5 separate regions of the Homo sapiens genome follow, and all the other regions are linked to region 4. The links come from fine-mapping of genetic effects on gene expression. A gene starts in region 4. Each other region holds a variant in brackets. All regions are shown on one strand. Distances are from middle to middle. Region 1 overlaps PEX14 (peroxisomal biogenesis factor 14). Region 2 overlaps CASZ1 (castor zinc finger 1). Region 3 overlaps AGTRAP (angiotensin II receptor associated protein). Region 4 holds the start of CASZ1 (castor zinc finger 1). Region 5 overlaps CASZ1 (castor zinc finger 1).

Evidence for each region.
Region 1: its variant is fine-mapped to the expression of CASZ1 in monocytes after LPS (Kim-Hellmuth 2017, PIP 0.95). The same link has a PIP of 0.9 or more in monocytes, monocytes after muramyl dipeptide and monocytes after triphosphate RNA.
Region 2: its variant is fine-mapped to the expression of CASZ1 in whole blood (TOPMed, PIP above 0.99).
Region 3: its variant is fine-mapped to the expression of CASZ1 in visceral fat (GTEx, PIP above 0.99).
Region 5: its variant is fine-mapped to the expression of CASZ1 in whole blood (INTERVAL, PIP above 0.99).

What each region holds. Positions count from the first base shown.
Region 1 is chr1:10,580,821-10,585,920 of GRCh38, forward strand. All of the region lies in intron 3 of PEX14 (peroxisomal biogenesis factor 14), which reads left to right. Among named protein-coding and RNA genes, the nearest start is that of PEX14, 110 kb to the left of the region's middle. The variant C/T (reference allele first, on the strand shown) is at 2,952.
Region 2 is chr1:10,689,564-10,694,663 of GRCh38, forward strand. It overlaps CASZ1 (castor zinc finger 1), which reads right to left. Exons shown (of 21, transcript NM_001079843.3): 4 at 4,311-4,349. The coding sequence starts at 4,326. Among named protein-coding and RNA genes, the nearest start is that of CASZ1, 100 kb to the right of the region's middle. RefSeq lists silencers at 4,476-4,565, 4,866-5,035. The variant C/T (reference allele first, on the strand shown) is at 1,959.
Region 3 is chr1:11,746,792-11,751,890 of GRCh38, forward strand. It overlaps AGTRAP (angiotensin II receptor associated protein), which reads left to right. Exons shown (of 5, transcript NM_020350.5): 3 at 649-754; 4 at 1,624-1,819; 5 at 3,286-3,978. The coding sequence ends at 3,401. Among named protein-coding and RNA genes, the nearest start is that of C1orf167, 13 kb to the right of the region's middle. RefSeq lists enhancers at 1,394-2,070, 2,071-2,747. The variant G/A (reference allele first, on the strand shown) is at 2,678.
Region 4 is chr1:10,794,252-10,799,351 of GRCh38, forward strand. It overlaps CASZ1 (castor zinc finger 1), which reads right to left and starts at 2,395. Exons shown (of 21, transcript NM_001079843.3): 1 at 2,313-2,395.
Region 5 is chr1:10,672,554-10,677,653 of GRCh38, forward strand. The region is part of intron 4 of CASZ1 (castor zinc finger 1); the gene reads right to left. Among named protein-coding and RNA genes, the nearest start is that of CASZ1, 120 kb to the right of the region's middle. RefSeq lists enhancers at 1-508, 3,084-3,874, 3,875-4,663. The variant T/C (reference allele first, on the strand shown) is at 3,124.

The sequences.
Region 1 (5,100 bases), 210 kb before region 4:
TCATCAAGTTCATATGCTGCTTATATATGCCAGGCATTGATCTATAAAAGTAGTACCTTATTTAATCTTTATAACAACTTTATTCCCATTTTACAGATGAAGGACCTGACTCATAGCTATTAAGTGTCAGAGCCAGGATTAAAACATAAGCCACCTTTTTTTCTAATTTTTGCTTTTAACCACTATGTTATGCTTCTAGTGGAGGAAGCAGCTGACACATAAATTAACAAATAAGTGTCCTATTGATATGAGCGACAAAGGAAAAGAACAGTCTTCTCTGTCTCAGGAAGGGTTCAACCAGAGAAGCAGAACCAATGGGAAATAGTATGCTGTTGCCACGTCTGAGGCTGGAGCTTGAAGTCTACATGGCAGGTAGTCAGAAAAGGAAAATTAAGAGCAGTCTGGAATCCCATGAGGGCAGAATGAAACCTGTTTCCATTCTTGTTGCCTCTGACCTTGGTGTTAAACGAGGATCTTTGTTATCCTTTTTTTTTTTTTTTTTTTGAGACAGAGTCTGGCTCTGTCGCCCAGGCTGGAGTGCAGTGGTGCAATCTCGGCTCACTGCAACCTGTGTCTCCTGGTTTCAAGCAATTCTCTGTCTCAGCCTCCCGAGTAGTTGGGATTACAGGCGCCCGCCACCATACCCTGCTCATTTTTGTATTTTTAGTAGAGACAGGATTTCACCATCTTGGCCAGGCTGATCTTGAACTCCTGACCTTATGATCCACCCACCTTGGCCTCCCAAAGTGCTGGGATTACAGGCGTGAGCCACCGTGCCTGGCTAATCCTTGTTATTCTTATTTGTGCATTCTCCCAGATAAGCTTGAGGAACATCTGAGATAATTTAAAATAATTGGGATTTTTTAATTGAAATTGTGTTAAACTTATAAAATAATTTATAAGTTTATAATAATTTATATTTTATTTAATTTATAATTTATAAATTTATAATAATTTATAAAATAAAAATAAAATAATTTGAAAGGCTTTTTCGTTTGTCTCCCTTTATTTCTCTTTGCAACATTTCTTTATACTGATCTAACATTTTGTAAGACTATAGTAATTTTATATTTCTCATGGCTATTATGAAAGGAATTTCTCTTCATTTTATTTTTTAATTATTGCTGGTACATAGGAGTGCTACTGATTTTTAATTTTATGTACTATATCTTGCCATCCCACTTTCTCATGATTAAATTAAATTTTATAGGTATATGGTCAATTGATTATTTTGTAAACTTGTCTCTAGTTCATAGACATTTTAATTTTATTTCCTGCTTTATTACATAGGATGAAACTCCAAGAATAATGTTAAATGTTAATGATGACAGTGATAATGAGTTTTATGATAAACAGCTTTTTTTTTTTAAGAGGGGAAAAAAGGGATTATCATGAAGTACTACAAATATATCTTACAGCTATTGAAAATCTGCAATTCATGAAGCACCAGTGTGCTTTATTCACATTTATTCACACATTGAACAATTATTTGGTGAATGACCACTATGGGTTGATCAGTATTTTAGGTTTTGGGGATACAGTAATGAATAAGGCAGAGAATAAAAGTTCAACACCATTAAAATCCTCAGAAAACCATATAAGATAAAAGAAAGGTTACAAAGCCATCTATGTTTGACAACCAGAGGAGTATTGTCTAGATAGTAATTGCTGTAGAAAAGTACTTCTACCTAGGGTGATCACAGAGGAGCTTTGGTGATGGAAGAGATAACCCGGAACAACTGACAAGCTCAGAGTAGGGTTGGGAAGAAGCTACTCTGATGGCTGGAACATCAGGGGTGGAAGACTGATGCCTGACTCTCTCCAGAGTATAAGGCATATCAGGGGCTGATGAATAAACTAGTTTGCTTTATTTAGTACAGGGTGAATATATGGTAACAGGCATTTTGTTTTGTTTGGTTTGGTTTGGTTTTGAGATGGAGTCTCACTCTGTAGCCCAGGCTGGAGTGCAATGGCACGATCTCAGCTCACTGTGACCTCCGCCTCCCGGATTCAATCAATTCTGCCACCCCAGCCTCCTGAGTAGCTGGGATTACAGGCGCCTGCCACCACACCTGGCTAATTTCTATATTTTTATTAGGGACGGGGGTTTCACCATGTTGGCCAGGCTGGTCTTGAACTCCTTGACCTCAAGTGATCTGTCCCTCCTCGGCCTCCCAAAGTGCTGGGATTACAGCCATGAGCCACCATACCTGGCCTGGTAACGGTTTTTATACTTACCTCTGGGGATTCTTGGAGATTCTGAGGAGATATTTCAGGGGCAAAGAGGGAATCAAGAAGGTGGGACTCTGATTTTTCTCCGTACCCCTCCGGACCTCTCAAAACCTGAACATTACTTTTGTCTGTTTTACATATTGGGGTTTCCGTTTATTTATTCTTTCTACACTTTTTTTTTTTTTGAGATAGAGTCTTGTTTTGTCACCCAGGCTGGAGTGCAGTGGTGCAGTCATGGCTCACTGCAGCCTTGACCTCCTGGGCTCAAGCAGTCCTCCTGCTTCAGCCTCCCTAGTAGCTGAGACTACAAATATACACCATTGCACCCAGCTTTTTTTTTTTTTTTTTTTAAAAAGGTGAGGTTGCACTATGTTGTCCAGGCTGGTCTTGAACTCCTGTACTCAAGTGATCCTCCTGCCTCAGCCTCCCAAAGTGCTGAGATTACAGGTATTAGCTACCACGCCTGGCTTTTTACACATTTTTATTGAATACCTACTAGGTGCCAGTAGAACCTAGGTGTTTTAGGTACTAGGAACATAGCAGTGAATAAAATAACCCCAAATGCAATGGTAGAGTGGGAGGGAGAAGACAGTAAATAGAATAAAATATAAACATGAGTAAGAGCAATAGAGGATTCTTCTTAGGAATTTGCTATTTTAAATGGGATGGTTTGGAAAGGCCCCTCTAAGATAACATTTTGAGCAAAAACTTGAAGAAAA[C/T]GAGGAAGCAAACCATGCAGATTTCTGGGTAGAAAGAGTTTCAGGAAAAGGGAATGACCGATGCAGAAGCTTGAAGAGGAAGTTGTGTCTGGCAAATTCCAGGAACAAGAATGGTAGGCCAGGTGGATAGCAGTGAGACACGAGGTCACAGCATTCACAGGGAGTAAGGTTGTGTAGGGCAACAGTATCTTGGTAAGGACTTTGGTTTTATTTTGAGTAAAATGGAAAATCATCAGAGTGTTTTAAGCAAGGAGTTATACCATCTGATGTAAGGTTTAATAGGATCACCAGGGTGGAAGCTGGGAGACTAGTCTAGTGTTGAGATGTGATCAGATTCCCTGGATATTTTTTTGGAAGTAAATCCAATAGAATAGCCTGATTTGTGGGATCTGGATATGAAAGAGAAGTAGAAATTAAGGATGACTCCAAGGTTTTTGGCCTTGTGTGACTACAAGTTTGGAGTTGTCATTAACTAGGAATGGAGCAGTTTGGTGGGGCAAGATTAGGAGTTCAGTGTTAGACGTATTAAGTTTGAGATATCAGACATCCAAGTGGAGGTATCAGGTGGGCAGAGGGATATTATGAATCAAGTTCAGAGGAAAGATCTGAGCTACAGATATAAATGTAACATTGTTAACTTCTTGATTTTGATAATTATTCTGTGGTTATATACAAGCATGAGCTTCCCCGACTCCCACCCCAAATTAAGACATGCTTACTGAAATATTTAAGGGGTAGGGTGTGATGTCTGTAACTTAGTCTCAAACAGTTCAGGGAAAGTAATCATATAGACAGATCAATAGAGAATAATAAAGCGAGTGTGATGAATTTAACATTTAAAGAACCTGGGTGAAAGATATATGAGAATTCTTTGTACTATGCTTTCAGCAGCTTTTCTGTAAATCAGAAATTATTTCATAACAGAATGTCTTTTAAAAGTGAAGGAAAATACAGACATTTCCAGGCAAACAAAAAGAGAAAATTCATCACCAGCACACTGTACTGAAAGAAACACTAAAGGAGTTTTCAGGCAGAGAGAAAATGATCTTACATGGAAACATAGAAATGGCAGGAAAGAATGAAGGACAAACAAAAGGACACATATCAACGAATATTGACTGTGTAAAATAAGAATGTCTTTCTTGTGGATTTTAACATACATTATAATTGAAATGCATGCCAGTACACAAAAGGAGGGGTGGAGGGAAAGTTATATGTGCGAGGATCTTTGGGGGAACAGTAAAATTTCTCATTTATATCACACTATAGTAAGTAAAGGATATATTGTGATGTCTAGGGCGTTGGTTCGCAAGTGTTTTAGTCTCAGGACCCCTTTCACCCTTAATTGAGGATCTCCCATTAGGCAAACATCCAGTAATTACTGTTGCAGACAAATTCCATTGACGGGTGCTAAAATGAGATGAAGGTTTCAAGAGAAAGAGCAAAGTGTCTTTTCCGAGCTATTTATTAACTCTGAAAGAAAAGATAGTAACTTTGCAGTAGAGAAATCCATCAGAAACCACCTTGACTACAAGGTAATAGAGAGAAAAACTGAATTAAAAAGAAGACAGGAGAGAAAAGAGAGCACTAAACAGGTCAAAAGGAAAACAAATTGTAATATGAAAGATATAAACCCCCAAAGTTCAGCATTTACATTAAATATAAATGGAGTAAATACTCCATTAAAAGCAGTTGGTCAAGATTAGATTTAAAAGACTCAATGCTGCTTGCATCAGACACACCTTTAGTATAAAGATATTTAAGGATTAAATGTCAAGTGATGGAAAAAGATACACCATGCAAACACTAACCACAAGAAACTCGGTAGTAATACCAGACAAGGTGGTCTTAAAAGTAGAATCAGAAGGCCAGGCGTGGTGGCTCACACCTATAATCCCAGCACTTCGGGAGGCCGAGGTGAGCAGATCACCTGAGGTCAGGAGTTCAAGACCAGCCTGGCCAACATGGCGAAACCCTGTCTCTATGCAGTGGTGCATGCCTGTAATCCCAGCTACTCCGGAGTCTGAGGCAGGAGAATTGCTTGAATCTGGGAGACAAAGATTGCGGTGAGTGGAGATCACGCCACTGCACTCTAGCCTGGGCGACAGAGCGAGACTCCGTCTCAAAACAAATAAAAAAAAGTGAGTCA
Region 2 (5,100 bases), 100 kb before region 4:
CCTTTCGGACCTGCCCTTCTGCCTCTGCCTCTTGTTGGGGAGGAAAGGCTATGCTAGGCCTTTTAGCCTCAGTTTCCTCTGACGTCTTGCAACTAGAACCAGGGCTGGTTCAAAGGGTCACTTCACAGCCCAGAGCTGCCTGTCTCCAATGCTCTCCACCAAAGAAAAGGTCCAAATAATGTGCTCCTCACCTCGTCCACTCACCCCCTACTCCCACCCGCCAGGACTGCCCCACTGAACAAAATCAAGTTGGGAGTCAGACAGCTGAAGATCTTAAAGGTCATCTGATGCTCAAGTCCCTCTAAATGTCACTAACCGGTGCACAGCACAAACCTCTGTTTGAATGGTACCAGGAAACTCATGACTTCCGAGATGGCCCATTCTGTCCCGGGCTCTGACAGCTCCTTTCTGCCAAGATGGCCCCAGAGCACCTACCCCCTGCAGCAGACTGGCAAAACCGGTGCCCAACCTGGCTACAGGGGCTGGCCCCAGCTTAGACTGGTTGAGTGGGTGTATCTGGCCAAGTAAAGGCTGGAGGAAGGAAATTGAGAGCAATCTGCTCTGCCCTAAACCCGGCGTGGAATCTCTTCCTCCAGTACAGCACAGGAACCTTCTCAGTCCCCGGTGCCTGGCAGGTCGAAGGTGTAACCAGAGCTAGTGAGGTTCCTAGAAGCCTCCACACTTGGCAAGGCTCTGGCCTTGACCTGGCAGCTCATGGAAGGTCTGATCTGAAGGTGGTTGACACTCAGGGCAGGGGCCTGAGCAGCACACACTGGGGCTGGGTTGGGGATGCCAAGCTCTTTGCTCTCTCAGCTTAGACACCGTCTAGAAGAAGTCTGCGGCCTACCTCAAGACAGTATGCTCTCAAAGCATGGGGCTACTGAGAATCAGGAAAATGAGCCAGCCTGGCCCAGCTTCTGATCCCACGCTTCCTGGCCTCCCCACAGTTGAGGCCTGGGCTGTCTGCGATGGGGGATCTGCTGGCAATGCAAGGGGGTCCTGGCCTGGAGCCCCAGAAGGAGAAAGAAACCGGCCGGGCTTCCTCCCATTGACCCGCCTCGACGACAAGGCTGCAGCCACAGCGACACATGGGCAGCACTGTCCCTCACCGGCACCCCCTGCAGTCCGTGGCCATCCCTTTAAAGTTGCCCTCTTGCCTCTTTGGCCCTTGACCTTGTAGAGCCTATCTTGGCTCCTCCGCGCCTTGGACAGCCCCACCCCTTTGTCTCAAGAAGAGAAGGGGCAACTATCATCAGATCCCCACGAGTCAAGGGCGAACGCCTGCTCAGAGCTCCACCCGTGCTTCACCGCCATTTTCACCCTGGCTTCTAGCTGTGTTCAGGGCCTGGGAATCAGCCTGGTGGGACCTAACCCTGGGAGCTTCCCAACTGCAGGATGGATGTACCTGTGTCTGAAAGCTTCCTCCCATCTCCCCTCCCCCCTTCCCGCTCCCTCCCCCAGGGAAATCACTCTAAAAGGGCCTAATGGAACTATGTCCTCCTCTCTTCCTCTCTCCCCTCCCTCCCTCCCTCCCTCTCTTTCCTTTTTTTTTTATTAGCATTTGTGGAATTTATTCCCAAACTCTCCTAATCTTCCGTACACAACCATTTGATTTGCATAACCCAACCCCCTCTCATAAAAACTGGCTGCTAGTTTAATTAAAAAATGTAAATTTGCTGTCATCTCGGGGCCTGGTGAATTAGGACGACATCGGCATTTTTTATTGCTAAAGACGTCCAGATTGATCCAGCCCTTGGCTGAACTATGGTGGGGGAAAGGGGGTCCACATGGCCCCTGAGGGTCCTGAGGTCCTTCTGTCCCCTCCTGAGAAGGCTTGGCTCTCCCACCACTGACTTCCTCATGGCTGAAGGCCTTCAGGACCTAGATGTGTCCGGGGCCGCGGGGATGTTAACCTACGATCAGGGAGGCATGGTGGGTCCATGATGCCAGCAGCCCTT[C/T]GAGGCCTGCGCCCCTGGCCTTGGACTATGTCAGAGAGGCCCTCGGCTGAAGCTGCCCACGCTGCCCCAGAGGAAGGGACCCTCACTTCACCAGCCACGAGCCCCGGCCAGAGACGAGGCCCATGGCCCCAGCTGTATGCCGTGTGCACTATGAAGTTGAGGGAGCTGTTCCCAGCTCCTGAAGATGAGCATGGAGTCAGCCCAGGGACCAGCTCAGAGGGGATCTCAGCGTCCTCATCTGCTTCCCTTTTTTGGTGAAGTGGGGGGAAGACTGCTTTTCTTCTGAAGTTCTGAGATTATAAGTGAAACTTCCAAGTTCAAAGAAGAGACTGAGATGGTATCACCAGATGACTCCTCCAGGAAACAGTCAGAACTCTGCCACCCTGGGCCTCCCCTCTGAGTGGCCAGAGTCCAGGCCTGAGTCCCACTGGGAGTGCTCTACTCCAGCTACAGGAGGAAGCAGCTGACCTCAGGGTCCCTTCTAGCTTCTAGGAAAAGTTTCCAGAGCCTGTCCCTGGAGTGCTGGGAGAAGTCAGTCTCCCTAAGGCCCAGGAGAGAAGCCACAAGAGGCTCTGCCACCTGCCTCCTACCAGGGCTGGGAGGCCCTCGCTCCAGTCAGGACACCCTAGAGAAGGGCTTTGGAGTACTGTCCCCACGACAGACTTGGAGGGACTGGTTGGTGGATGGCAGGAGGATGGACGCTGGCTCCAGCTGGCACCCAGGTTAGGAGGAGGCCGACCAGAGGGCCTGCCTTCCAGCTCTGCAATGCCTGGGTCCTGTGTGCTGGCCCACAAGCAGAGGCTCTCCTGCCCCAGGTAAGGGGTGGTGCATTGCCACCAGGCCCATCTCTGAGGTCTGCTTCTTGGCTGGGATGGGTGGGGGCCCCATTTCCGAAGAAAGGGGGTGGGGCCTGAGAGGGAGGTGATGAGACACCGACTGGAGGTGGGGGCAGGCAGGTTCTCTGTGGGAGTGGAGGGCAGGGAGGGGCAGGGTGGCAGCCTTGGCCTTAGACACCTTTACCACTTTGCCCAGCAGGGGGTGTCACACCCTTCCCGGGCGCAGAGGTCCCCAGGCCCTCCACGTCAGACCAGCCAAGATCACACCTGGTGTCACACAGTCCTCAAACTCTGCAAATGACACCTCCCCCCAACAAACACAGGCCCTTCTTCACCGGCCACCGTGCCACCCATCCTCATCCCCTCAGGGCTGCCTCCGGTCTCTCTGCCCACTGACCTTTAGAAGGTCAGATATCAGCTCATGGGTCCCAAGGGCCGATGCTGTGAACTTGGGCCTATTATAAACAACAACGCTAACAGCCACCAGTATCACCTATCCCATCAATGAACCAGGAGAGTTCAGAGATCAGTCTCAATGAATGATCGGGCTGCTTGTTTCTTTTAAAACATTTAAGAAGACAGCTGCTTTTGTCAACCTAGCACGTGAGGGTCCTGGTCAAAATTTGGTTTCAATAGCCAGGGCCCATGGGAAGCCCGCAAGAGCTGAAGGCAAAAACACTGGAAAGAATTAGATTAAACCCAAGAAAACACCAAAATATCAGGATAAACTGCCCCAGGTGAGCACCAGGCCTCCTGGAGCCCCCGGCCTTGTCCCACAGGAGGCCCCCAAACCCAGATGCCTACGTTGAGTAGTCTGTCTGGTCCATCACCACCCCTAGGGTGGGGGCTAAAGAGGCAGGTGGGAGACAGTCCGGGGCCCCTCACTTTGAACTGATAACAGCCACCTCATCCCACAGATTCTCAGGTGAAAAATACTCATTAGCCATAATAAGCAGCTTGATCATCCGACACAGCCTTGTCCCAAATAAATTAAATTCCTTTACCTTGAGACAGTCGCCCCGAAACCAGACTAACCACCTTTCCCAACAGGACGCTGCTTTCAAAAACTAAACCACCCCCCACTAAAAAAATAAAAACACACACCCCAGAGCCAGACACACAAAGATCTTTGCAGAGAACAAAAAAAAAAAAAAAAAAAAAAAAAAGGCACACACACAGAAAAAAAACACGAAGCCATACAAAAAACACGGAGAACAAAAACCCCACAAAAACCCCCTAAATCCTCTCTCTGGGTGCCCCCCAGCTCCTGCTCCTCTCGGTTCTTTCATAATGACAAGCATCACATTAGTCACAGCCTCTAAGCAAGTGGCAAATAACAACAACAACAGCCTCAGAAGTCGCCGATCCCGAGGCCGGGACGCCGGGAGGCAGCCGCCCGACCCTCCCGGCCCCCACCCGGCCCCGCCGCCACCTCATTGGGCTAAAAATAAGAACTTCCGTAAAAGAAGCGAAAGAAAAGTGAAAGAGCCGCCCCTGCGTTCCCACCGGCCGGTACCTGTTCCAAGATCCATTCTCTTCTCCTTGGTCCCAAACTCTTCGCAGAACGCCACCAGGGGAAGACCGGGAGAGAAGAAACACGGGGTTAGCGTCTCGCGGGACCCCGGCCGCCCGCCCTGCTTGTCCCCCGCCCCGCAGGAGCGGCCCGTCCCGGGCGGGCGCCGAGGCCGCGGCGGAGAAACTTTCTCCTCCGCGCCGCCCGCTTCTCACGCTCGGCCCCGCACGCGCCCGCGGGTCCGCGCCGCCTGAGTTTCTCCAACTAAGGCAGCAACTCTCGGCCGGCGCGGCCCCGGCTTGGGGGCCCTGGCCGGGGGATCCGCGAGGCCCAGGGGCGCCCCCGTCCCGCCGACCGCGCCCCGCGCCCGGGTCGCCGCCCGAGACCGCGGCCCCCGGGCCTCCCCCGCCCGCGCCCGGTACTCACCATAGTCGGAGAGTCGAAAGCCGAATTCACTTAAATAATCAACTTTCATAATACTTAATTAATGCCTAATTGCAACTGATTACTCCCCGAATAACAAGTTGTTTTAAAGCCCTGATGTCATTGCTCCTGCCGGTAACACTCAGGGTAACAGTTTGGCAGGAGGGAGCGGGCGGGCGGGCGCGGCCGGGGGCGCTGCCAGGCGCCGCGGTGATTGGCAGGGCGGCCGCGGCGCCGCCTCCTCGGCCCGGCCCGCGCCGGCCCCGGCAGGTGAAAGAGCAGAGCGCGGCCCCGCCGCCGCCGCCGCCGCCGCCGCCGCCGCCGCCGCCCGGTGCGCCCGCCCGCCGCCCGCCGCCCGGTGCCGGAGTGA
Region 3 (5,099 bases), 950 kb after region 4:
TCGGTGTTCACTATGATTTTGATTGGATTGACAAGTAAGTCAACAATGTCAGTATCAGTACCCTAAAAATAGAATAGGGCGGGCCTTGTGTTAGGAAAGTGACGAACTTGTACTTAGCACCGGTGGGCAAGGGAAGGAGTCTCAGGGTGAACATTCGAGTCTCAGGGTGAATGACAAAAGGAGGGCCAGGTGTCAGGGTAGAGGGCGCCCGCCGCACAGGGCAGTGGCTGGGAGGTCAGTAGGGCGAGGCTGTGTCCGGGATCCCACAGGCCCCTTAGGCCCTGGTGAAGAGTCTGCATTTTATTCCAAATGGGACAGAAAACTGTTGGAGGATTTTTAGCAGAGGAGTGACAGCATCTGACTACGTTACCGGTTGCTGTTTAGAGAACAGAGTGGCAGTCAGGACGCTGGCACAGGGTGGCTGCGGCTGTCATCTGCCAGGAGAGGGAGGTGCTTTGGATCTACAGGGACACAGCCAGATCCAGGGTCTGGGTGGGAGGCGGAGCCCATGGGATTTGCTGGCACACAGCCGGGTGGCCTCGAAGACTATGGCATGTTCTGGGAGGAGGCCCTGAGACGCCGGAGCAGGAGGGAGGTGACCTGCGGGGTGGTGGCCTCCTGACGGGACTGAGCTACCTCTTCCTACAGGGGCTGCATTGTATTCTCAGGCTCCTATGCCTGGGCCAACTTCACCATCCTGGCCTTGGGCGTGTGGGCTGTGGCTCAGCGGGACTCCATCGACGCCATAAGCATGGTGAGCCAGGGTGGGGGAGAGGCGGCAAGGCGGGGAGCCGCAGCACAGGGCAAGACATAGCCTGGCTCTGCTACCCCGTCCCATCCCAATCTTCCCCCTCTTCCTTGGGCCACCACTTCCCATTGTCTAAAGCCTGTTCATCAGCCTCCTGGGCTCCGGCCCATGCCTGTGTTCAGGAGCCCAGCCTGCTGCTCTTCTTGTCTGGCTTAGAGAACCCCAAGTCTGCCATTATCTCCCTGAGGAAAGCCATGGGGTGGGTCCCACCAGTGCCTCGGATTAGCCACTTCGCAAGAGCAGTGGAACATCCCCTGTAACCTCCCTCTGCGGCTCTCTTTTAGGGGAGGGGATATGGCTGGGAGACCCGGCCAAGAGGGCATTTCACTACTTTAGGAAGTAGAGGTGACCCTGCCCCACCGAAACCTCCCACAGGGGGAGCTTCTCAGCACCCACGGAGCCCCGTGGGGCAGTGAGCACTCCCGCACGGGCTCTTCAAGCCGAGGCCAGGGCCTCAGGATGACTGAGAAGAGATTTTCTTTGTGTTGGAGAAGGACTGGGTGAACTCCAAGGAACCTTCCTCTATGGAGGTTCTAGAGCCAAGTCTTGTGCCCATCATGGCCTTGGAGATGACGGGAAATGGGTGGGGAGGGAGGCTCTGGTGGAACCGAGACCTGGGCCCCCGGCATCCCTGCCCCCAGACTGCAGTCTCAGCCAGCGGCTCCCCAGCGGGGCCCTGCCTGCTTGCTTGATCCATTTTCCCGCAAGCCCCAAGGACACAGCAGGGCATGAAACGGCTTCCCATCCGGTGTGTGGCGGGGGAGCCACGGAGCGTGGTGGGGGTGTTGTGCTCATCAGTGTGGTGTGTCTTGCAGTTTCTGGGTGGCTTGCTGGCCACCATCTTCCTGGACATCGTGCACATCAGCATCTTCTACCCGCGGGTCAGCCTCACGGACACGGGCCGCTTTGGCGTGGGCATGGCCATCCTCAGCTTGCTGCTCAAGCCGCTCTCCTGCTGCTTCGTCTACCACATGTACCGGGAGCGCGGGGGTGAGCTCCTGGTCCACACTGGTGAGGCCACCACCTCCAGCCAGCTCCTCACCGCTCCCTTCTCTCCCTTGCCTGGCCTCCAGCCTCTCCCTCAGTGAGCCAGCCTTGCCCCATGGGGCCAGGGCTCAAGGTGCAGGGAGAGCGTGGCATGGGCGCTCTGTACTAGGCTGGACAGGTCCAAGCTCCTAGTCTCTGCTGCAGGAGCCCAGGGGTCCCCTGGTTGTCCTGGTCTGCCGTGACCTTCTTCTGCTGTGAAGCTGAGGCTGGGCCCTTCTCTCAGCCCAGAACACAGGCACAGCTGGGGGTACCATTTAGTTCCCAGGGGCAGCCCTGGGCTGTCTCCATCCTGAGGGCCACGGGCACCTACAGGTCTCCTCTCTGTTCTCACCGGGGCCCATCACTGGAACCCCATTTCCTGCCACATGGGGTCTTCCCTCTCCTGCTGCAGAGACTGCTAGGTGGCCAGGGCAGAGCCCGTGCCAGTGTAGGCTGTGGGAGCCTCAGTGAAGACAGCCCTGAACAGGGGGCACTTTCCCTGCCCACCGGCCCCTCCCCACTCACCCAGCCTTACACCTGCCCTCTCCCACGCCCTCTCTGAACTCCTGTACTCCTTCTCCTGGTGGCCGAGCCATTTGCCTGCTCTCTGACACCTCTCTCTCTCTTCCTTTCTCTCTCTCTTTGAGAGGAGTGGAGGGAGGTGGTAGGGTGTGGCCTTCTGCCTTTCACTCCTGAGATGAGATGCCCCACGTGGCCTGTGACTGCCACCAGCTGGTTGAGGGTGGGAATGGCCTGGGGCTGCCCACAGTGGCTGACCTCAGCACTGCCTGGGCCTGCCCCCAGGTGAGGGGTGCCAGAATGTTTCTCCCATTGGACAGATGA[G/A]GAAACTGAGGCCCACATCCTTTGGGACTTGTTCAGGGTCCCGGGATGAATGTACAGAGTAGGGGATGGGAGTGAGGCATGTGGCGTACTCGGAGCCCTACGGCCCTGCCTTGGACCCAGCCCCAGCCTCCGAGGCCATCTGGATATGGTAATGTGGTGTCCTTGTACCTGGGAGGGGAGCTGGAGAGGAGTGCGTGGGCCCGGGGCTGATGTCCCTCTGCCCAGGTTCCTAAGCACGTGCTGCCTGGGGAAGCCCATGGCACAGGGGCCAGGAGCCTGGCTTTGGACTCGGCTGCCTAGGCGTGGGTCCCAGCATCATCAGCTTTGAGCTGTGTGATCTCGGGCAAGTCACTTCATCCCTTTGACCCACAGTCTCCTCATCTGTAAAGTGGGGACAATAAAAATACCCGTCGCACAGGGATACGGCAGGATTGAATGAATAATACACGCTAAAGGTTTAGGGCCTGGGGCTGCTGCCTCTGTCTCTGTGCATGGTGTCAGGATGCCCAGCCCGAGGGTGGCGGGGGTGGATCTTGGGTTGGACTCAGCTGAACATCCCGAGTTCTCACCCTTCATTTTTCTTTCCCACCATGTCCCCTGTCACCTAGGTTTCCTTGGGTCTTCTCAGGACCGTAGTGCCTACCAGACGATTGACTCAGCAGAGGCGCCCGCAGATCCCTTTGCAGTCCCAGAGGGCAGGAGTCAAGATGCCCGAGGGTACTGAAGCCAGCCACGCTGCGCCCGGCCCTGCCCCGGGCCTTCCTCGTGCCTGGGAGGTCGTTCTAGGGATGCTCCTGACCTCCGTCTCTTGGACCTAAGATGGAATGTGTCCCCAGCTCAGGGATTGCCTGAACCAAGAGGCCAGGAGCCCCCATGGGCCGCCCAGTACCATGCACACTCCTGTCCCGAACTCCCTGAGGCCTCCCCTCCCTTCAGGGCACCCACTGGTTCCCAGGCTGGAACCAGGGTCTCTCTTTACCTCCTACCCCATGGTGGCACCACAGAGGCCCTCAGCCGAGTCCTGCCTGAGTGTTGCAAGCTCAGGCCTTTAAGGACTGCTGATGCCCCCTCAGGCCTCCCCCAAGTTTGCTGGGCTTTGGTGGAAGCCCTGAGAGCTTCAGGTCCTGCTCAGCCCGAGGAGCAGTCTGGCATGGGAGTGAGGCCCCGTCCTTCTCACTGCCTGGTCACATGGTGCCTAGGGATGCAGGGCTGGAGGCCAGAGGTGTCAGCAACACTGTGTCCCACCACAACCTCCAGCCTCCCTTTTCAGAGCACAGCATTAAAGTTTGGGGAATTCTGTAGATGGGCTGTGTTTTGAACCACCTTCAATCTCCTGGCTGGGCTGGGGCCTGGCCTTGTTCCTGGGAAGATGTCTCCTGCCAGTTCCCAGGTGGAGCCTGTGCTGTGCTGCCCCATTCTGTCATGGCAGGAGGAAACAGGCATGTGCGTTGGCTGAGCTGGGCTTGAGCCTGGCTCTGGCCTAGCAGAGGCCACAGGAGAGAGAGACACTGGTGGGTGTGGTGCGTGGGCATCCGTTTCTCTGAACCAGATGACCCAGGCACTCTTTGGAATCCTGCTCTGCCACTTACTAGCTGCATGCCTTCAGTGTCTTCTAGAAAGGGTTGGTGCCTGCTCCAGGTGTGAAGTGCCTGGCGTGAGGAGGGCTCCCTAAGTGATGGTGAACTTGTTAGCAGTGGACCTGCTCCTCAGGCCAGTGACGATGCTAGGTTAGGAGGCAGGGGCGACCTCTTCCTGGTAGCCCCTGTGTCTGGTCACAGCTGACTTGGGCTGACACGTCCAGAAGTTCCCCAGGGCCTCGGCCCACCCCACGGACAGGTCTAGCTATTCACAGCTTGCTCTTCTGCCCCCTGGGCACCAAGTGCCAGGGCTTTCCCAGGCCATCCTGGCTTGTCCCTGGCACAGGGTCAAGGCCTAGTGCACAACTCCCATTATTCTCTTGCGTCCATCTGTCAATCAAAAGAGGCTCAGTACCTGCCTGGTGCCGAGCGGGCTTGGGGCTGCAGTGGTGACCTTGGGAGCCTGCTCTCAACCTAGGAGTCTTCCCACCTGGAGGATTACAGACAGAGGCAAGAGCCCCGAAAGAAGAGGACATGGGCCTCTGGGTCAGGGAGGAAGGCTGCTGTGGGGAAGGGGCTGTGCTCCGGGCAGAGGGCTGCTGAGCAGCTGCAGTTGTGAGAAACTGGAAACAGCCTCACTGTCGGGAGACGGACCAGTAAGCCACGGTCCATTCATTACAGGGAGTATGGACCAGGAAGCCACAGTCTATTCATTGTAGGGAGTATGGACCAGGAAGCCACAGTCTATTCATTGTAGGGAGTATGGACCAGGAAGCCACAGTCCATTCATTGTAGGGAGTATGGACCAGTAAGCCACGGTCCATTCATTATAGGGAGTACGGACC
Region 4 (5,100 bases):
ATCTGTTTTCCAGTCCCCTCGTGCGCTCTCACCGCGCGCCTGTACCAGCTCGGAGACGTCCTAAATTTACTAACTTTGCCCCGCGACTACCAGGGCCTTTTCCCCCTCGCCACCCCCTGAGTGTACCGGGTGTCGGCGGGACAACTACGCACAATGAGGGCCGCACCCCCACACTCCACTCGGTCAGAAACGCACACTCCGCCCCGTGGCCCAGTGATCCAGGTTTGGGGGAGCTCCATACTCAGGAGAGGCGCTACTGCCGCTTTTCCGGTGGGCACGCACCCGCACCCGCACCGTAGCCAGCGTGGCTGGAAGGAGGTCCTCGCCGCGCCCAGAGCCGGCTTTCCAAGCTGAAGCTGGGGCAGAGGAACTTGTGTGGAGGAAGAGGGGGTCCCCTGCCTCCCTCAGCGCTCCACTAGCCTCCCCCAACTCCGGACCCGGGTCGGGGATGACTTGGAAGAAGAATCTGCGCCCACCCCTTAGAGAAAAATCTATTATTATTATCTTAATCTACGCCCCCAAAGTGTCCCTCCAGCCGTGATTGACGGCGCATACACCTGTTCCCTTCGCGGAGGAGCTTCCAGCGCCGGGGACAGACATTCGCCCAAACGCTCCGCAGCGGCCCAGCAACCGCCCGCCCGCCCGCGCCCGGCCAGCCCCCGCCAGCGGCCCCAGCGCGCCTCTGCCCGCACCTCGCCACCCCGGCGGCCGCCCCCTCCCCTTCCAGACCCGGCTGCCCGGCCCGCCAGCTCCCGGCAGTGCTGGCTTCGGAAAGAGAGAGAAAGAACAGAAAGCAAAACTTCCTGGCGGCCGACGGCCATCAGCTGCACATTCTGCAAATGCCACCGAGTAAAAATAAACCGGCCGCCGCTCCGCCCGTCCGGCTCACCCCGGGCGCACGAATCGGCCCCCTGCCCCGGGAGATCCCTGACTCGGTCTGGCCCGATCCCCCATTCCCGCGCGCCCCCTGGATCCCCGCTCCCCGACGCTCCTCCGTCAGTCACCACGCTCTCCTTTGCCGTTAAGCCGGACCCTAAGTGACCGGGAAACCGGCTCTCTCCCTTTGGTGTTCCCTGCGCCCCCACAAACTACTTTTTTCTCTGTCCTTCACCAGGTGCCTATTTCAGCCCTGTGCCCTTGGATTCAGGGCTCCTCCTCCCCAATTGTTGAGCTCCGAGGTCACCCTCAGCCCACCCTGGGGGAACAGACCCCGACCGACCCTCTCCCACGCTGCAGAGCCCCCCCGGAGCGCACCACTCTACCAGCCCGCTAGCCCGCCAGCCCAGCGTCCCACGTCCCCGGGCGCAACTTCTCTTCTGGCGCACACAACAGCCGGCAACAACTCGCCCGAACTTTCCCCGGGACCCAGGCGGGCTCCAGCCGACAGCCGGGCAGCTCTGGGCCGATGCCCCGGCTCCCCGTGCCCTGTGTTGCCAGCCCTTCAGCTGGGGAGGCAGGGGGTGGGGTGGGGAAGGGAGTGAGGAACGCCACTTGCCGCGCCTGGAGCAGCGCACTTGAGATAAACTTCCCAGGCACAGATGAAAAAGGGGGCGCCGCTCCCCCCATCTAAGAAATCTCTTGCCTTCGATTTCCTATGGGGGATACCCTTTGGCACCCCGCGCCTAAGCGAACACTGCCTACCTCTGCTGGCAGCACCTACACCCGGTATCCGGGCACAAGAGCCGGCTGGAGGGGTTCCCCACCCACCCCTTCCCATGGGCAAAGTCTTGCAAAGTCACCCCAGGCACCCCTCACCCCGCCTCCTTCTCTGCCCTGGAGAGCGCACGACCCCTCTGCTGCTGGGGGGTGGGGTGGGGTGGGGGTTTAAGGGGAAGGAGTGATTACCCGGTATTGGAGATCACCTGCCCCCCCGGGAGCCCACAGCGCGTGGGGCGCCCCCACCCTATTTGCAAAGTCCTGTGCTCGCGCCTGGCACCTCCCTCTCTTCTCCCCTACCCCGCCACCCCCTCAGTTGGAGTAAGCGACCCCCAGGAGGAGCAGCCCTCCCCTCCCCCGGAGCCGCGCGCCGGGCATTCCCCTGGCCACGGCAGGCAACGCGCCGCCCCGCGCCCGGGTGCCAGCCCTCCGTGCCCCCTGCCTCCGCACGGCCGGAGTTGGGTGGCAGCCGCCGATCGCAGGCTGGCTGGCTGGCTCGCTCGCTCGCTCGCTCGCCCGCTCCCTGCTGCAAGCGGCAGCCCCGGGGGTGGGGGGGGTGCACCGGGACAGGGGGAGAGACGGGGAGGCGCCCCGGGAGGCCCGCGGAGCTGGGGGACGTGGGGGGGCCGCGGCGGAGGGAGCGCCGAGTCTCTTACCTGCACTTGGGGCGGCTTTGGGTGACTTTCCAAGTCCGGGGGAAAAATGTGTGTGTGTTTGGGATGGAGCGCCGCGGGCGCGCATGCGCTGCCCAAAGTTGCCGGATCCCGGATTTTTCGCTCCCAGTCTCCGCTCTCGCCCGCTGTGATTATGGAATTCTCCGCGGCCGGGCGGGCGAGTGGGTGGCATGCAAAACCCGGGCCGGATCGCGGGGCCGGGCTCCGCTCCACCCTCACACCCCCAGACCTGCCCCTCCCGGATCCTTCCCACCCACCGCCCGGGCTGAGCTCAGCGTGTGCGCGCGGCGAGTCGCACGGCCTGCGGAGGAGCATCTGAGCGCTCGGCCCCCTTTTGCAGGTCCAGAGGCTTCTACACCCCCCCCCAGCTGAGTTGAGTTGAGGCTAGGGGAAAAGAGAGAAGGGATGGGGGGGGGGGTTACTTTCCACCTGTTCTGAACCCCGAGAGAGCCCGAGTTCGGTTCCCACTTTCGACAGAAGAACTGGCTCTTTTTTGCAAGTTAGAATGTTAGAACTGTGGAACCCAAAGGAACGAAATGTTCTCACTGTTTGATATCTGCTTTGCACTTATTCTTTGCAAGGGAGTTTTTCATTCAATCTATTGTGCAAGAAATAAATCCTTAAGTGAGCAAGATAGGCCGTGCAGAATGAACCTTACATGGAGGGGCTGGGGGGGGGGCAGATAATACACATTAAAACAAGTGGATAATGTTATTTCAGAGAGTGAAAGTATCCATGAAGAAAATAAACCAAGGCAATAGGCTAAAAAGTGTCTTGGGGGCCGGCATGGTGGTTTACGCCTGTAATCCCAGCACTTTGGGAGGCCGAGGCAGGAGCATCGGTTGAGCCCAGGAGTTCGAGACCAGCTTGGGCAACATAGCTAGACCTCATTTCTGACAAAACAAAACAAAGCAGTGTCTTGCGAGAGATAATCCCCTTGCCCCCAGATGGGGGGGAAGGGCCTTTTGAGGGGCACTTTCATACTTTATTGAAGAAACCCCCTTTTCTCCCATACCCAGACTTCCCATTTCCCAGTTGGTTTGAGGTGGCCACACCAGCTGAGCCTAGTAGTCAGCTTCAGTGCTGAGGCCCTGTAGCTCTGGTCTTGCCTTTCTCAGCAAGCGCACCCCTCATTCCAGGCCTGAGCTGCTTTTCCCTTCAGCATAAGCGTGGGATGGAAATATCGAGAGGCATGAAAGAAACTGAAAACACCCAGATGATGAGATAAGTGAGAAACTGACCATAACAGTAAACGAAATAGATCAATGATTTGTGGAATAAATGAATATAAATTCAAAGTATGACCCACAGCTTCAAGCCCTGCTCAACAGAATGCATTAAACTAAGAGGCAATGCCACAGGCTGGTAAACATTGTTGCAGGCTGGTAGTATTTGGAGCCTAATCTGCAAGGTGTCAGGAAAGCCTCTCAGGACCAGAGAAACGACCCAAAACCCTGTATGATGATTGTCTAAGACAAGCATCTTCCGGGATGCATTCCCATGTCCTGCCTTAAACTGGAAGTTAATTGTCCAGAAGCATATGGACACAGACTGGAGACATGATGGCCCTCTGGCCCTGAGGAGGCCAGGATTTGCCCTGTGCCCTAATAAAGCCAACAAATTTGGGAGAGGAAGCTGAGCCATCCCACACTCCTTAGATACTCAGTGATATTTGCTTGTGTTAGATGGACTGGGGAAGAAACCAGCTCAAAAAACCAGCTCCTCACTTCCTGGAATAGTTCTGGGGGTCCATTCAGGATCTGTCCACACAGGAAAGCCAGATTTAGACATTAGACACATGTTTCGGGTTCATTTTGTTTTCCCCCCTCCTTATCCCAATAATTGACTGGAAGCAGCAACACAACGATAATTAACATCCCTCAAAGACCACTGATTGGTTACTCTCCATTGCCGCCCCCACCATCCAAGGCATTCTCAGCTCTCAGGGGTTGAGGGCTCACCCACCATCTCTAAGACCCTTGTGCCTGGTGACTTAGCAGGATGCACAGCCCCAGAGATCTCAAGCCCAATCTTGTCATCCTACAGAAGGAGAAACTGAGGCACAGTGAGGGGCAGTAACCTGAGAAGTGGCAAGGTAGCTCTTCTACCTTATTGGCTCACGGCTGAGTCCACTCCTGGGGCAGCGTAAAGAAGGGGTTAGCAGCTTGGGCTTGGGGGTGAGACCCTACCGCTCCACCAGCTGGGTGACCTTGAGGAAGGCATTTGACCCGTCTGTGCCTCAGTTGCCTCCACAGTAAAATGGGGATAATAATAGTACCTACTGCCTGGGATTGTTGAGAAGCTAAAATGAGTTAATGCAGGAAAAGGGCCTGGGCCAAGATATTGATCGATAAATGCCAGTAATTGTCATTGCTCCTTGGGACATCCAGTGCTCCCTTTACTTCTCATTTCTTTCCATCCTCTCTCCATTCCTTCTCCTTTGTCCTTTTTTTCCCCCTCCAACAATAGTCCTTCACTCATTCATTCATATGGTAGGGATGACTAAGCTCCGAGGAAGAGCAGATCTCCACCAGTGCTGGGGAGACAGAGATGAATGAGACAAAGCCTGCCCTTGAGGGGCTAGGGAAGAATTCACTTGTCTCTCTGTCCCACTATCAGGCCTACCCCACTTCTCACTATCAGGCTCACCCCTACCCCTTTCCCACTATAATGCCCTCCCGCACACCATTTCCCACCTCTCTCAACGTCTCCAACAGCCACGTCACCCACCAAACTTTTATTAAAATGTGTATTCCTCCCTCCATTTTTT
Region 5 (5,100 bases), 120 kb before region 4:
TCCACATTATCAGTTGCCATGGAGACCTCATCTCTCGGATTATTTGAATTTCATTATATCTATTGATTTGGGAGCATTTCATCTTTTTTATTGTTTTTCTGTCAATTTTCAAAACGAATAACCATCTAATTTGCGTCAGTGCTGATTATGTTTGTCCCTCAATAGAGGTCGGCAGCTGCGCTGGGGAAACAAATCAATGAAAAACCATCATAAAACTCCCCACTCCAGTCTCCAGGATGTGTGGGTGACATTCCACGCCTGCGAGAGACACACTCATCAGCTCCAACTTCGGCGACGGTGGCGGCGGCTCCGTTCCACGTCCGCCTCCTTTGGCCTTAATATTTAATTTTGCGATTTGGGGCATTATTAGTGGTGTTTTTATTAGCGCGTGTGCCTGTGAGTGTTTGGAGGTGGGCTGGCGGTTCCATTAATTTGTGGGTGAGGCAGGGAAGCCCCAGAGGAAGGCACGGTGGACGGCGTTGGGGTGCAGTGGCGAGTGGAGAAAAGAGGGGAAAAGCTCCGAGGGGGGCGGGAGCCTGGGGACCGGGAGGGCCCTGCGGAGGGGCTGGAAAAGGGGGACCGAGTGAAGGGGAGGAAAAGAGGGAATTCAAATTGCTTACTTTGTTGGTTTTTTTAAATAATTTATGCAATTTTAAGCATTTATGTATAAATTTTTTAATAAGCCACCCTGGAGCAGGATGGCCATTAACATCCAACGTCCTTCTGTCCAATGGGCTGGCGGAGAGGATCAATTTCTGAGAGTACTTTCCCTTTTTTATGACATGATAAAATGCTTTTAAAGCAACTTACACAAATATGGAAATTTTTTTTCGTCCCCTCTCCCTTCGCCTAACAGCCTTCTTATCCGCCAGGGAGGGGGAGGTTGTGTGTGTGCACACACGCGCGTGCACGCACACACACTCTCTCGCACTCTTGTGCTCACGCTGCCTCTCTCCTGCTGGGGAGGGGGGCTGAGGGGGCTGGCAGGGAGACAGCCCCAGTTCTAACTGGAACTGGCCGCCTGTCCTTCTAACAAGGGCATAAACTTTCATTACCCATGCACGCAGTCAAAGACAATTTAGGGAAACGCGCTGCTTGGAAAAGGAAAACCTCAGCGATTCGTGGCCCATGCTGCTGCCACCATCTGGGGGGCTCTCACCTCCAGCTCTAGGGAACCCGGTCCCTGAACCTCTGGCCCTGCCAGCAGGAGGTGGGGCGAGGGCAGGACAGCTTCCATGTGGACCCTCCGTGGGCAGGAGAGCCCAGAGAGTAAGGGTCTCCTCCTTGGCTCAACAGGACCATCCATGCCTCGGGCTGAGGCCAGGCGCCCTGGGTCTTGCCCTCCTTGCCCTCTCTGGATGGCCTGTACTAACCCCAACCAGGGCTAGCCCTTGAGGGCAAGTGCAGGCCTCTGTCATCCCTGCCACCGCAGTGCCTGGATCAGAGCAGAAGCTCAGCTATGCAGACGGACAGACTGACAGATGGACTGAATGGCGACAAGGCAGGGAAACAGGCCCTAAGGTATCCTGAGGTGCCTGTAGGGGCCCCACAGATGCTGGGGCAAGATGCCCTCCCCAGGTGCCCCTGCACTAGAAGCAGCTCTGGTGCAGAAGTGCCTCTTCCTACAGAGTCAGGGCATTGGCCACCATCACCCCTACCTGGGCATGAGCCCCTGACTTCCCCGGAGATGGGAAGACCTTCTAAGAGGAGGGCCAGTGCCTCCAGGTCTCAGGGTGACCCTGCCTCACCTGCCTGCTCCCTCTCCTGATGAAGGCAAAGAGGAACCTGAGAGATGCCCGGCCCAAGCCCCCACCAGCCGACGCAGACAGTCCTGAATCCAGCGTGGGGTCCGAGCCTTCCCCGGCACCGCTGCTGCGGGAGGGCGTCCAGCCCTCTGAGGCCACCGTGGGGCACCTGGGCTTTGGCAACTTCCACATAAGACAAATCGACTCCAGAGACCTGGCCCCTTGGAAAGCTCATCACTTCAGCGTCTTCCCTGCCCTGGGCTCGGGTCCCCAACTGTAACACAGCGTTGCTGAGGGGATGATGTGGGCACACGTCTGGCTGGGGCTGCAGAGCACACGGTGCCTCCCTGATGCTCCACGGTGACTGTGGGCAGAGTCCCCTCCTCGGAGCCGGGAGCACTGCTTCCTGCCTGGTAACTGCAGGGCACCGCGGACCTGGAGTTCAGCCCCGTGTGGCCCTGCTCACCTCTGCCTGGGGATCTGAGAGCTGCCCTAGGCCTCCTGCTCCCATCCCCGCTAAAGCCAACTTCTTCCTGGGCCTCACCTGCCCCAGCCATCCAGGCCCAGTCTGGAGCTGACCAGTGGGCAGCCCAAGAAGGTCCCCATGGGTCCCTGGGCCCTCTGTCGTGGCAGCAGGGGAGCAGCCCTGGCTGCCCCAAGCCCTCCGTGGGGATGCAAGGGGAGCGCCCACCCCTCCTGTTTTTCTGTGCTCAGATACCCCCCGCAACCAACTGTCATTAAAATAACAAGTTTCTGTTACAATCTAAACATTCCCACATCGCATAAAGGGTTATATTACACCCGAGTCACTCCCGGCCCATGTTTGCACAGAAAAGCTCACGGCAGGTCCCCCCTCCTGACGAAGTGACTTATTAAAGTTTAAACAGTAATTAACAGAACAATAAAAATAAAGGGATGTTTGGGGAGTCGTAGCGCACACAGGGTTTTTGGCAGTGCCAGCAGTTTTTCAGTGCCCTGCGCTGGCAGCAAAATGTGACTGTGAAGCCAGTGGGGACAGAGGACGGGGCCAGGGTCGAGCCAGGGAGTCCTGAGGCCTAAAGGGCCAGAAACCCCGAGGCAAGGCTGGCGGGAAGGAATGGGGGTCCTGGGGTGGCAGGGTGGGCACAGTGCGAGCAGGCGGGGTGGTCTGGCATGGGCAGGGAACAGGCCTGGGTGGGGAGGCTTCAAGAGGGGTGAGGCCAGTGCCCAGCTCAGCCTCAGGCACTTCCGGGAGCCCAGTGCCTCGGTCACATCCGGCCAACTCCGCACGGACCTGGCTGGGGGAGGTGCCAGGTCCCCCGACACTGCGGGCATTAGGAGACCCTGCAGTTAATGATTCCTGGGGCTGGACCCCAGCCACTCTGGGCTCCTCTCCCAG[T/C]TGGGCAGGTACCCCTACCCCTGCCTCTGGATCCTGTGGCCAGGGCACTATGGGAACTCTCCTGGCCCCTATTAAGCATGGGTAAGGACTCGGGGGCCAGCCAGCCTAGCACATGACCCCCCCCCCACCCCCAACAAAGGGAGAAAGTGGCCAGCTTCCTGGGCCAGGTGGGTCCCCAGCGGCAAAGTCCTCTTTCCCCAAGGTTTGCAGGGAGCTGGCCTGGCAGGCCGGTCCGGGCCAGAGCTGCCTGGGATGGGCAGGGCTAGGCCTGTTACCCTCAGCCTTGCCTCTTCTCCCTCAAGTTCCATCCCAGGGGCTCAGACACCTGCCTGCCAGGGATGGCAGAGACAGTCAGGATGAACCAGGCGCCCAACCCCAGCAGCCAGGGAGGGGCCCCAGGAAGAGGGCGGGGCTCCCCCTGGACCTAGGCCTGCTCAGAGGCTTGGGGGCCAAGGAAGGAGGGACAGCAGGAACCCCTGAGGGTCACACAGAATGTGTGATCTCAGGGTGGTGACAAACCCATGCCAACCAAGTGACAGACACCAAGGCCCTGCTGGACTGGCCCGGACCCCCGTCCCCCATGCTGCTTCTCATTCCCTCTCCCGGAAGCCCTGGGCTCCCGCTATTGTCGGCCACGTTGAGGGAGGGCCCCTGCCTGTCCCATGCTCACCCCTGTCCTTCCTCTCCAAGGAGAGCCACCACAGAAGCAAAGCTCTCACTCCATCACACAGCGTTAGCCCCAAAAGGTGACCTTTCAACAGAACATCCCCAATGCAGGCTCTTCCCACCAGGACAAAGAAGACACCAAGAGCCCCCGGGGAGGCCTCTCCACCATCCTCTGAACAAAGGGGCTCTCCTCCTGGGCTCCTCCATCTCTCTCTGTGCCTCTCCATCTCTCTCTGTGCCTCGGTGGACCAACCTGCCTAGGGGTGCCCTGGGATCCTATTTCCACAGCAGGCCTCCCTCCACCTTGGTGCCTGCCCTCGACCAGCCTACAGCTCAGAAACGAGCCCCTGGCCCGGGGCGAGCAGCCCCACAGTTTCCTGACGTGGACGCCTTTGCTGGTTCCTCCACGTCCCAGCCACACAGGCCAGCAGGAGCCTCTGTGAAGCCTGCATGGAGAAGAGATGCTGGGCTGGGCCAGAGACTCTCTCTAACATCCTGTCTCCCGGGATCTAGGTCCTGGCAGCTGGCGGGTATCAAGGGCATGCACTCTGTCCGGGCTGAACCCCATACTGCCTGGCTCTGCCACTGCCTCTCGCTGAGGCCCCTGTGGGCACAGCCAGTCAGGGGGTGCAGGGCCCCACAGACTTCAGTGCTGCCTGGGCTCTGGCACGTAGGACGTGAAGGAAAGCCAGCAGCTTTTCTCCCCCTCTTTCCTGGGCAGAGCCCCCTGGGGCTCCATCGCCCCCCGCCTCCAAGATGAGTGAGTCACGGTGAGGGCAGAGTGGAGGGTCGAGACAGAGAGAGCTCAGGAGGGGGCAGGTGATGCCTCCCAAGCCTCCAGCCGCTCTGCTCAGGCTGGAAGGAACGCCAGGAGCTCACACTCCCTCGCTGCTGGAGGAGGCAGACGGAGTCACCCAGCGCCAAAGCCTCGCTGGAGCAGGAGGGGGCAGGGGAAGGCACCTTCAGGGTCAGGGGAAGGATTGACAGAGGGCAAGGCAGAGGGTGTCTGGGTGGCACCGAGGAGGGCAGGAGGGGACAGGGGCCTTCTCATGGGTACGTCTAAAGTGGGCAAACAGGGAAGCAGCTGCTCGTCCTGACCCACTGTTTCTAGAACCTGTGTGTGGGGCATGGCAGGGGTGTGGCAAGTGGCTCTGGCTGGACACGGAGCTAAGGAGGGCAGCCTGCACTTAGGTCCAACGCACCTTGGGACAGGGGACAGCTATCAGGGTGGAGGCTGTCCTAGGTGCACAGAACTTTAGACCTGGAAAGGGACCGAGGTCCAAGAGGCTGAGAAACTTGGCAAAAGCCCAG